Regions from separate parts of the Homo sapiens genome. Here region 2 is linked to region 1. The links come from fine-mapping of genetic effects on gene expression. A gene starts in region 1. The other region holds a variant in brackets. All regions are shown on one strand. Distances are from middle to middle. Region 1 holds the start of PRDM1 (PR/SET domain 1). Region 2 has its middle 92 kb from the start of PREP.

Evidence for each region. PIP is the estimated chance that this variant, and not a neighbour inherited with it, causes the effect.
Region 2: its variant is the best candidate, but not a certain one, in a credible set for the expression of PRDM1 in cerebellum (GTEx, PIP 0.58).

What each region holds. Positions count from the first base shown.
Region 1 is chr6:106,083,525-106,088,904 of GRCh38, forward strand. PRDM1 (PR/SET domain 1) reads left to right here and starts at 2,812. Exons shown (of 7, transcript NM_001198.4): 1 at 2,812-3,071; 2 at 4,677-4,925. The coding sequence starts at 3,030. RefSeq lists enhancers at 1,193-1,262, 2,440-3,159.
Region 2 is chr6:105,492,637-105,498,016 of GRCh38, forward strand. No RefSeq gene overlaps it. Among named protein-coding and RNA genes, the nearest start is that of PREP, 92 kb to the left of the region's middle. RefSeq lists an enhancer at 2,940-3,009. The variant C/T (reference allele first, on the strand shown) is at 2,650.

The DNA.
Region 1 (5,380 bases):
CCACCCAGGAACTGGGAGAGGAAAAAAACTGGCCCAGTAGCTGAAACCGAATTAAAATTGGCTGATGGAACTGTTGTGATGATGCCATCCACGGGAATAGATGAGAATTTCTGAGAACAGAACTATTTGGCTCATTCATGATTTGCTGCCATTGTGAACACTTTTAATGTGAGAGCTCTGCCTGAGAAATGCTGATTAATAAAGATAACTGAGGTTCTTTTCGGTGTTCTAACTTGGGGGGAAATAATATAGTGACTAAAAATGCACCAAGTTATTACTTAGAAACAAACCCTTTGAGACATAAGATTCCAGACAGTGGCAGCCTCTGATAGCTCTCTCTGCACAGCTGTACTGCTGCCAGGGTCTCCCAGCTTTAGTCAGCAGTAAAAAGGTGCACTGCTCAGGCCCTCTGGGAGGACCGAGTGAAGTTCAGAGGTCAGTCCCTTTTATTCCCCCTTAATGGTTTTGTGCTGGACAATACCTAAATATTACAATATGGACATGTTTTTTCCTATTATGGAGCAAGCTTCCTTTCTTTTATTTCTTCTTCCTTTTTGGTAGCTTTCATTTTAAATGATGATATCCATCATTGACTACTATAATCATAGTCAAAAGTTGGTTTGGAGGTTTTTTTTTTCCCAATCACTTTGAGACAAGAAGCAAACATGTGAAGGACTTTACATTCCAACACTCTGTGTCTGAAAATTTACTTTCCTTAAAGTTCTACCCGTGGCCTTGTCCAGCTCAGCTGGGACACCTGGAACTAATTTTAGGGTTGCCTGGCTAAGCCCCACACTGGTATTTGAAGTTTGCGTCCTCCCTAGACTCAAGCCCATTTCACCACCTCTGAAGGTGAGTGCAGGCTGATATTAATTAACAGTGAGTTGATTCACTGGCATCTTCCAGTCATTAAAGCAAATATTTGGCTTAAAATAGCCTTCTTCCCACCTCAAATATCAAACTTTTTGCCTATTCCCTTACTCTATCATGGTTGACTCACCAGCAGTTGCATGATGGTGTATGTGGCCTAAGAACAGAGTTTGATTCTAAAAGGGAAGTGAAATACTCTTTAACATCTGCAAGTGAGACTGTTTGAACAGCAGGCCAGCCTTCAGTATGACTACATTGTTTTTCTGTCCATTGTGGTGCTGACTCAGCATCAGTTAATAAACCCTCTTGAGCAGGCTGGATTTCTCTTGTTTAATTATCAGCTTGGAGCTTTCTGAGGACTCTTAGGAATTGTTCATTCAGTTTTCCACCCCCAGCAGATCTGCCTTCTAAAAGTCCTGCTTCCTCTTGGTGCTAGCGTCCCCTCTGGCATAACATGCAATCACAGGTGGGCCACGCAGCAAGCAGCGAGTGTGTGCTAATCATGTCCCCTAGTGGGAATTTAATTGTTCTGTACTGAGAGAGAGATTGCAGCAAGACTTTAGACACCATTTCCTGGCAAATAATCTTTTGCCTCTCCCCCTCTCCCCTAAAAAAAATTCTAGAAAAGTTTTCTAAAAGTGAGAAAAGAAATTTTAAAGATAAACAGACATATTTTTTAGGATTGAGTTGGGCTTTTGTTTTGCTTTGTTTCATTTCTTCCTGTAAACAAATACTCAGATGTCCATTTCATTGTATGACTAAGTTGGTATCATTAGGTTGGAACTGGGTGTGTGTATGTGGGTGTGTGTGTGGGTGGATGTGTGTGCACACGTGTATTTAAAATGTTAGAAAAGACATTGCAGGTCGAAGGAGAAATGATTTTAAAAAAACCTACCTATGGTAAGGCAAGCAGGAAAAATGGAAGACCTGGATTTCAATGATCTAAATAATAATTGAAATGGGGTGTTTGCTATAAACATTGTTTCTCTGAATTAAAGGATTCCTTGCTGAAGGCACAAGACCATTGAAGGAAGTAAAGCATCTGGTTTGTTTTGTAATGAGAAGCAGGAATGCAAGGTCCACGCTCTTAATAATAAACAAACAGGACATTGTATGCCATCATCACAGGATGTCCTTCCTTCAACAGAGGACTGACTGGGCTGGAGGAAAAGCTGGCCGGGGCTCAGAATAAGCCCCACTAATTACTGCCTCCGACCGCTTTCCACTTGCAGTGATCAGTTCAATATTCCTCTGAACTGTGAAACGACTAATGCTCTACATTTTACTTACACTCCTGGGAAGTCAGCCTGTGGGTTCTGGGAGGAGAGGAAAGGAAAACAAACAATCTGTAGAATTATAACTTTTGCCTATTTCCCTATTTACTAAATAGTTAAAAGAGGAAAGTTAGTTCTGCCAAGTTTGAACGTTAGCAGGAGAAACGGAATGTTACAACTTTTGGGGCGGGGGGCGGGGAAACGTGCGTTACATACACAACAGCTTGAGGACCAGACAGCTCCACTGTATTACACTAGCTGCAAAAACAATTTAACTTGCTCTTTTGAAGTAAGATTTGTGTCTTTTGTACCTGGGGATTTGAGCTGAGAAATCAGAAACTGTGTAGGTAAATTTTAAGTTTCCTTAATTTAAGGAACGTGCGCCCCCTAATTCTGCCGCGCCAGGAAGGAGGGCGATCTGGAGTGTTTAGAATACAATAGAGCCCAAGTAAGCGTTGAGGTTAAGTGCCTTCAAAGGGAAGTAAGAAGATTCCAAGTCAATGTTGAAATACACATGCGAAGAGAGGAAGCTCTCGGCGGCTGTGCTAGCAATCTGGGGGAAAGCCCTGGGCTCGGCCAGGTGGTGTTGGCCACGTTGGCCACGCCCCCACTTCGCGCAGCCGAGTGGCTAAGGAAATCTTAAGCAGGGAGGGGAAGCCAGACGGTTAACACAGACAAAGTGCTGCCGTGACACTCGGCCCTCCAGTGTTGCGGAGAGGCAAGAGCAGCGACCGCGGCACCTGTCCGCCCGGAGCTGGGACGCGGGCGCCCGGGCGGCCGGACGAAGCGAGGAGGGACCGCCGAGGTGCGCGTCTGTGCGGCTCAGCCTGGCGGGGGACGCGGGGAGAATGTGGACTGGGTAGAGATGAACGAGACTTTTCTCAGATGTTGGATATTTGCTTGGAAAAACGTGTGGGTACGACCTTGGTAAGGAACTTGAATTTTTTTTTTTTAATTCTGAAATTGATCTGAAAACTTTATTTTCTTTTCCTTTATTGTTATTATTATTAATTTTTTTTGGCTAATGTCGCAGTAGAAACATGCTTCTGCTTTAGTGCACTTAGTGCTGTCAAACATTTGTGAGACTTTCCTTATGAATCATTAACCCTTTCAGTTCTAGACATAATTGCCAATTCATTGAAATTTCAGTAGTGGTTCCAGCTCACACTCGTCAAACTATTCCGGGTTGGCTGAAGTTTTCTATTTTATTTTATTTTTAACATGTGTTTGGCGTCATGACTCTACATGTTGGAACTAAATAAAAATAAGCAGGTTTGCTTAAATCATAACTGAGGGAAAAACAACTTTGCATCCAACTTTTTTTTTTTTAAGAGCATCCTATTTAGAGAAGTGGAAGAATGTAAAAACCTCCTTGAAGGACTTCCACAGAATGTTATGTTTACATTTGAACAAACACACATTCTTACATGGAAATGATACCCATATTCCTCATTTTTATCAAACATGTCTATATGAGAAAACCCTTACAGAAGTTGTTTACCTTTTTTTGCCTTTGGAAAACAGTTTTTTTCTGAGTGTGAGGGAGGATTTTGGGGGAATATCCTCATCAATGTACAAGTGGAAGCAGAGCTTGTCCTCCAAGTCTTCTAAATTTGTTATAACTTTAGTTACAGTAAACTGTAGTACATCAGTGACTTCTGGGAATTCATACACTTTCAGATTTAAATGGAAAGTGCTATTTGTAGCTGAGGACTCCTAAAGGAATTCTCTCCAGGGAATTTTATTAAACGGTTTTATGTTTTGTTTTTGCCTTTTCAATTTGGTATGAGATGCTTGCAAGTCAGAAGACACTGCAGGCTGTTTTCCCCTTCACCCATTTTTCCTCCTCTTTTCCTGTGGTCCAAGTGATTTCTAAGAGGCCGTAGCTCAGTGATGCTGGCAGGATGCAACCCTTTTCAGTCTTCCATGTGAGAGGATGAAAGAGAGCTCGCAGCAGAGGGAGGAGGCAGTTGTTTTGAAAGTTGTTTTGCGTTGGGAGCTGGTGGGAAAGTTCGGTCTTCCCCATTTGGAAAAGGCAGGCTGGGTTCCGCTCCTGCACCACACGCGCTTTCCATTTTTAGCTTCATTCAGAGGCAGACAGAGCTCCTTCCTCTTCCTCTCCTTGTTTGTGACACTTTTCTGAGGCAGCTTTTCCACAGTGCCGAGGGTCTGGCGGCCATGACCCCAGGCATTCTGGGACACTGGACTGTGTGCCCAGAACATTTTTCTGCCATGAGAGGTAAAGCCAGGGATTGTTCAGAGGTGATTCTTTTTTTTTTTTTCCTTTTCCCCACAGTGAGGTTGCCACATTCTTTTTTTTTTTTTTTTTTTTAACTAAGAGTAGCATTTAAAAACCTTGCTTCTTTTCAAGGCAGTTTACTTTATACGGCTTCTTGGCTCTTTCTCAACTGTACCAAGCACTCTGCATCTGCTTTTAAAGTCTTCAGACTACTGTATTAGTCATAGCCTCTCAGAAGGAGCCACAGGAACGGCGGGACAATGGGGATTAAAGGCCTTTCCTTTCTCTTCCAGGCTGCCCCCAAGTGTAACTCCAGCACTGTGAGGTTTCAGGGATTGGCAGAGGGGACCAAGGGGACCATGAAAATGGACATGGAGGATGCGGATATGACTCTGTGGACAGAGGCTGAGTTTGAAGAGAAGTGTACATACATTGTGAACGACCACCCCTGGGATTCTGGTGCTGATGGCGGTACTTCGGTTCAGGCGGAGGCATCCTTACCAAGGAATCTGCTTTTCAAGTATGCCACCAACAGTGAAGAGGTAAGCCTCTGGTTTATTGACAAGAAGATTGGGGACCTGGTGCCAAATCTCCCTACTTGCCCTTGAGGCCTTGTATATCTCTGAAAACCTCTGAGAATCTGTAAGTATCAGTAAATAATTGATTGCTCTATTCAATTCTTGCATTGCTTTCTCTTTCCCTAAACCATTTCCTTCTCATTTCTTCCAGCCTTCAACTGTTCCTCACTAATTAGTAAACAGTTAAATATTTTGGCAAATTGGCATGTCTTAGAAAAGCAACTTGCAGCATAGGGTGGGTGAAATTGTCAGTGAACTTCAAGAAAGCTCTGGGCCCACTGGCCCTAGTGTCCCTGTTGTACAATATCTCTTAAGGGAGAAAACTTTTTCTTGGAAAAAAAAGTTTTAATATTTCTTTTGTCTGTCTTTGGTAATTAGTTGGCTTTACTCTTTTTAACAAGCCAGCTTTATTAGCTGGG
Region 2 (5,380 bases), 590 kb before region 1:
TTTAGTTTATTCTGCAACCAGAACCTGTGTGTGGCTGAATGCAAGGTCTAGGATACATGACCCTGTCCGGGTGGGGGACAGTGAGGTCCTAAGACCCCTTGTAGAATACTGGAAAACAGTTGGTATGACCAACATGAAGATTTGGCTTTCCTGACAAATCCCCACATTCTGCACTTGACAGATGAATGCAAAGGTCTCTATTTCCAAGGAAAGCAAGCTAGGAGCATGTGATCCCTCAAGGCCACTTTGTGATTCACTGGGAAAACAAGATGAAATCATCCCATTTCCAACTATGGAACCAAGATGAGCCTAGGCATTTTTAAGCCATTGGCAGAGCTGTCTTCTTTATTTTCTTTGCCTGACCCCATCCAGCTCTGATACCTCTTGCCATACATAAGCTGGACATATTTAGCCCCCTAGAGAGAAAGGAACATTGGCTGGGACAAAGTCCCTACCCACCACACCCACCCTCCTTGGGCAGTCTTGTTATCTCTCCTTGGAGTGTGTGATTTAGTACCACATGACATTAAGATATGATAACCTGAACTCTCTATTACTTTGGGAAAGACTACTGAGAAAAAAAAAAAAAAAGCTTGTTGGAATAGCTCTGTTGATTATAGCTGTGTGGGGTTATCTTGGAAGAGGATGGAAAATAACCCAGAGCCAAGACTTGTTTTGGATGGCTAAAGTGAAGTCAAAAATAGATGAAGATCCACCCACATGTTAAGAAAATCCTTAAAGTCCTGACACCCAGCAAGGCTGTACTAAGCAGTTATCACCTACTTTTTGTTTTCTGCTTCATCAGCTCTCTAATCCTGCAAGTTTCATTATTAGGATTTCCTGCTATACTTTTAGTTTTCAGTTACAGATTGACTGGGGACTGCCAGTATGTCTGGCCTACTGATGTTTGCTGGTAGATTATCCTTGTAAGAGTTACTATTGTAAGGGAGCATTTTTTAAAAAGTAAGGAAGAGTGGCAATTCAAATAAATTCCACTGCCTCACTGCTTGCCATGGTCTGACAACTATGAATACAACAGAAAGGCTCTTTTGAAACAAACTTTCTTGTTAAAAAAAAAAAAATTTGCAAATGAAACAAAGAAGCCAACAAAACAAAACAAAGCAAAACAAAAAAACACAACACCCCATGGTTGAATTTACCAACCTGAAGAGTTCAGACGTTGCCCAAGTCAGGGACTGGTAATTGACATCCAGTTCAGGGGTTCATTTTCCCTTTTCTCAAGATTGAATGGAACTCTCTTTTTAAAGACTTATAATTTACTGTCTAAAATTGGAACGGTGACAAATTCAAAGCAGGGTAAAAGGAAGTCTCCAAAACAATAGCACTGAAATTATCCCAGAGCTTTTTCAATTGTGAGAATTTAGTGCACCTGAGTTGCTAGACTCACTATAGTGGCAGCATGCCTAAGTGGTATATTTTTTAATCTAAATCTAAGGAGGTGACCTCTTTTGGTAGAATGAACATTGATGGTTTTTTTTTTTCTATTTTGCTGAAAATATTCTACAATATCCCAGGGATTTTCAGGGAAAGCACGCTCTATTCATAAATGAAAATAAGAGCACATATTCCAGTCCTCAGTACAAAGCTTCAAGGACCATTGTTGAGCATTGGCTATTACCAAGTACTATGCTACATGCTTTATATACATTGATTCATTTGGTCTTCACAACAGTCTGCTAGGGGTAGGTACGACTATTACTTCTATTTTACAGAGACAGAAAGAGGGAGGTTAAGTAACTGGTTTAAAGTCATCTGGCTAGTGAGTGACAGAGTCAGGATTTGAACCCCGGTATTCTAACTCTATTGCCATACTCTTAACTACTTGGCAATACCACCTCCTAAAAAAAGTGAGTGGCCTAGCTTCAAGGACATTAGGTCCTGAAGGCCTAGTAGGAATTGAGTTTTGGTGCGAAGCCACTCAGCATGTTCGATTTTAGAAATGGAACCTAGTATTCTACTGTTGAATACGAGGCAGGCCAGGTAAGTTAGGTTTCACTGCATCCTAGCTATGCGGTTGATATTCTCAATTCTATTTAGTTTTATTCCCAATCTGTCTCTGAAAATGATCGAAGTACTTACATGCAAATATACATCCTTCCTTTAGGCCTCTACAGAACTCCAGTCTCATTTCGACTGCCTTCTAAATATCCCTACTTGCTTAAGCCTTCACGCATCTCAAATACCTACACTGAGCTTCCCAGTCCCACTTCAACAGCTCTGCATTCCAACTTCTCTGTCTCCATAGTGGTGTCATTCAGTCACCCACACTCTAAACTAGCTCAGGATCAGTTTTTACTCCCCTCTTTCCCGCACTGTTTCCTGCCTCAACCCCTGCCCCAAGCAAACATGCAGTTAGTCATTAAGTCCTGCTGATTCCCTTTGCCAAATCTGTTCTTTCCGATTCCTGCTGCAACAAATCAAATTTCTAAAACCATATTTTGGAATAAATTTCCCATGAGTTGGCCCACCTTTAGGCTTGCTGTCCTGAATATAGCCACCAGATTAAAGTTGAAATTCAATGCCTTTGACAGTGTTTTTGTTTTGTTTTGTTTTTGTTTTTTTTCCTGTGCTCTTTTGTGTGCCAGGCACTAAGTTGGAGACACATCACTGAATAAACAGACAAGACTC[C/T]TGCCTTAAGGAAGCTTGCTAAAGTGTCCAAAATGACTACATAACTTCCCTGGTTAAAGCCAACCAAAGCAGTAAAGTAATATTCAAAGATTCTCTATTTCCTCAATTTAATGGCAAAATCTTGGTTTGGAAATCAAGTTCCTCCACCATTTGGCCTCACTTTCCCTTTTCCCTTGCTCTTCATCAGCAGGTGCTCAGCCTTGCACCCAATACATTCTGTTTATTCTGTTTCCCAACACAGTGATTCTCTCACCTCCCTGCCTTGCCCTTGCTGTCCTTTCTGCTGGGAATAGCTCATCTTCACACTTCTCTACACAAATATTTCTGCTTTCCACCACCGTGGAGTTGTTTGCCTCCACCACGGGGCCAGATCAGGAGATACGCATGTCCCTTACTCACTTCACTGCTGTGGTCAGGTCTTGCCCGGATCTGGGGCAGGAGGGATTTAAATAGTATATAGCCTGACACTTTGTGGTAGAGAAAGTCCCTTTGTGACAATTTAGCCTGTTCACCCCCCTCAGCTCTTGCTTTGGTTCTGAGGCCCATCTTCACCCTCAGTTCTGGTACCTGAGCCTGTGCCTCATTTCTGTTTTCTGCGTCCCTCTTAGGGACCCCTTACCTCACACGTTGAACTCAGCATCCCCTTCATATAATCCTTCCCTTAAACTCCACCCCTATGACTGAGACCCCAAGGTCCCAAAACACTTTTGCAGATTCTAACAGCCTACCTGCCTCATTGAAAACTGGAATATTATGGTTCATTCATTCACCAACAATAAATGTTTACTGGAGCCTTCCTGTATGCCAGGGCCTGACCACATAACACATGGCAAGAACTATTCCCCATTCTCATGATGCTCACTCTCTCATTGGGGTAAGTGGTTAAATAAAGAAGCAAAGTAATTTTGGGGAGTGAGAAAGACTATGAGGAGAGTCAAACGGGCTACTGAGATGGAGGCAGGGACTGGCAGAAGCTGGTTTAGATGGGGCGCTTAGGAATAACATCTCAACTGAGATTGGAACGACGAGAAGGAGCCAGCCAGCCATGTGTAAAGCTGAGTAGTGTCCCAAGCAGAGGAAACTGCAGGTGAAAGATCCTACTGTAATCACCAGAGACCAAGGAGAGGCCAGCAGATCAGGGCAAAGGAGGGGAGAGTAGTAAAGAAAGTAGGGCAGCAGGGGCCAGAGCAGGGGAGACCTTGTTGCTGTGTTCCTGAGAAGTAGTTTTGTTGGATTTTCCCCAGTTGCCAGCTGCCTGGCTCTGCAGATCTTCTGCACTGTTTGTCTGGCTTACGTGCTCCTAGTTCCTTTTGGCTTGATTTGTCCTTCCTCGTTCCCCCTGGACGTGCCCCATTTTGATGGCAGGGTCTTGGATTCCCATCACTGTCTTTCTCATGGTCATTAAGTGGGCATTGCCCAGATAACACGTCCAAGGTAAGATGGTGCCCATCCAAGTTCTCCCTGGTCTCTAAAGCCTAATTCCCATATAAGTTTCTTTAGGACATTTTCCCAAATGATCATAGCTGGAGAAAGATCTAAGGCAGTAGCCTGGCTTGGTCTGAGCCATCACCCAGCTTTCCTCACATGCTCATTTATGCTTTGGTGTCACTTTCCTTTCCAGATTTTATGCCTCTGAAAATAGGAGCTGTCTCTGGTACAATTTTGTTCCACCAGATTAATAGCATGGTGGCTCGTTCTCAGTAGCCATGGAAATGTGTTTTGGAGAATAAACTATTTGTGGAGCTACTTGGCTATTGTCATGAGGATTAAAAATATATGTGAAGCAGTTGGCCATGATGACATGCTCCTCTAGTCTGAGCTACTCCAGAGGCCGAAGCAGGAGGATCTCATGAGCCCAGGAGTTTGAGGCCAATCTGTAAAAAAAAAATTATGAAGCATCTAGAAAGGTACTTGGCACATAATAGGTTCTAAATTAATGATAATATTATGATCATTGTCATAGTTGAGTGACTTTGGGCGTAACTCTTCCGATTTTTTAGTTTAAATGATACTGCTGGATAGAATGATTTCTAAAATGTTTTCTAGCTCTAAAACTTGATCATGGCTTGGATGAACACCTTGAAAGCTCTCAGGAAGAGAAAGAGTCTTTGCCTGTTGGGTAACTTTTCCCTAGTGAGAAGGCTTGTAGGCATTTGAGATTCTTTTATGGCATCAGTGATAATGTACAATATTTTCAATAAGGAAGCAATTATACATTTTTAATTTATTGAGTAGTATATATTTAGTAGTATTTCAGGCATTTTGAGAGTAGAGACAGTGATAATACTTTTTTCAAATGTGCACCTGCAATAGCAAGTGTTGTCAAAGGTGTGGAGAAACAGAAATTCTCATATACTTCTTACGGGTATATACATCAGTACAGCCTCTTGGAAGTGCAATTCAACGATAGTGAGAAAAGGAAAAGATGCACATATTGTATGATCCTGCAATTCTACCCCTAGAGAAACTGTAGCACATATGCACAGAGGCTTTTTCAAGAATATTCATGGAAGCTTTGTGGTAAAAAATCTGAAGCAACCCAAGTGTCTCTGAGCAGGAGAAAGGATAGATTGTGTATTCAAATACAAACATGAAAATAAATGAGCTACATCTACAAAGCTTCATATGGATAAGTCTCAAAAGCATAATGTTTAGGGAAAAAGCAAATTGCATAATCATAATATAGTATGATAAAAAATAAAGTTAAAATCATACAATATATAGCTATGGA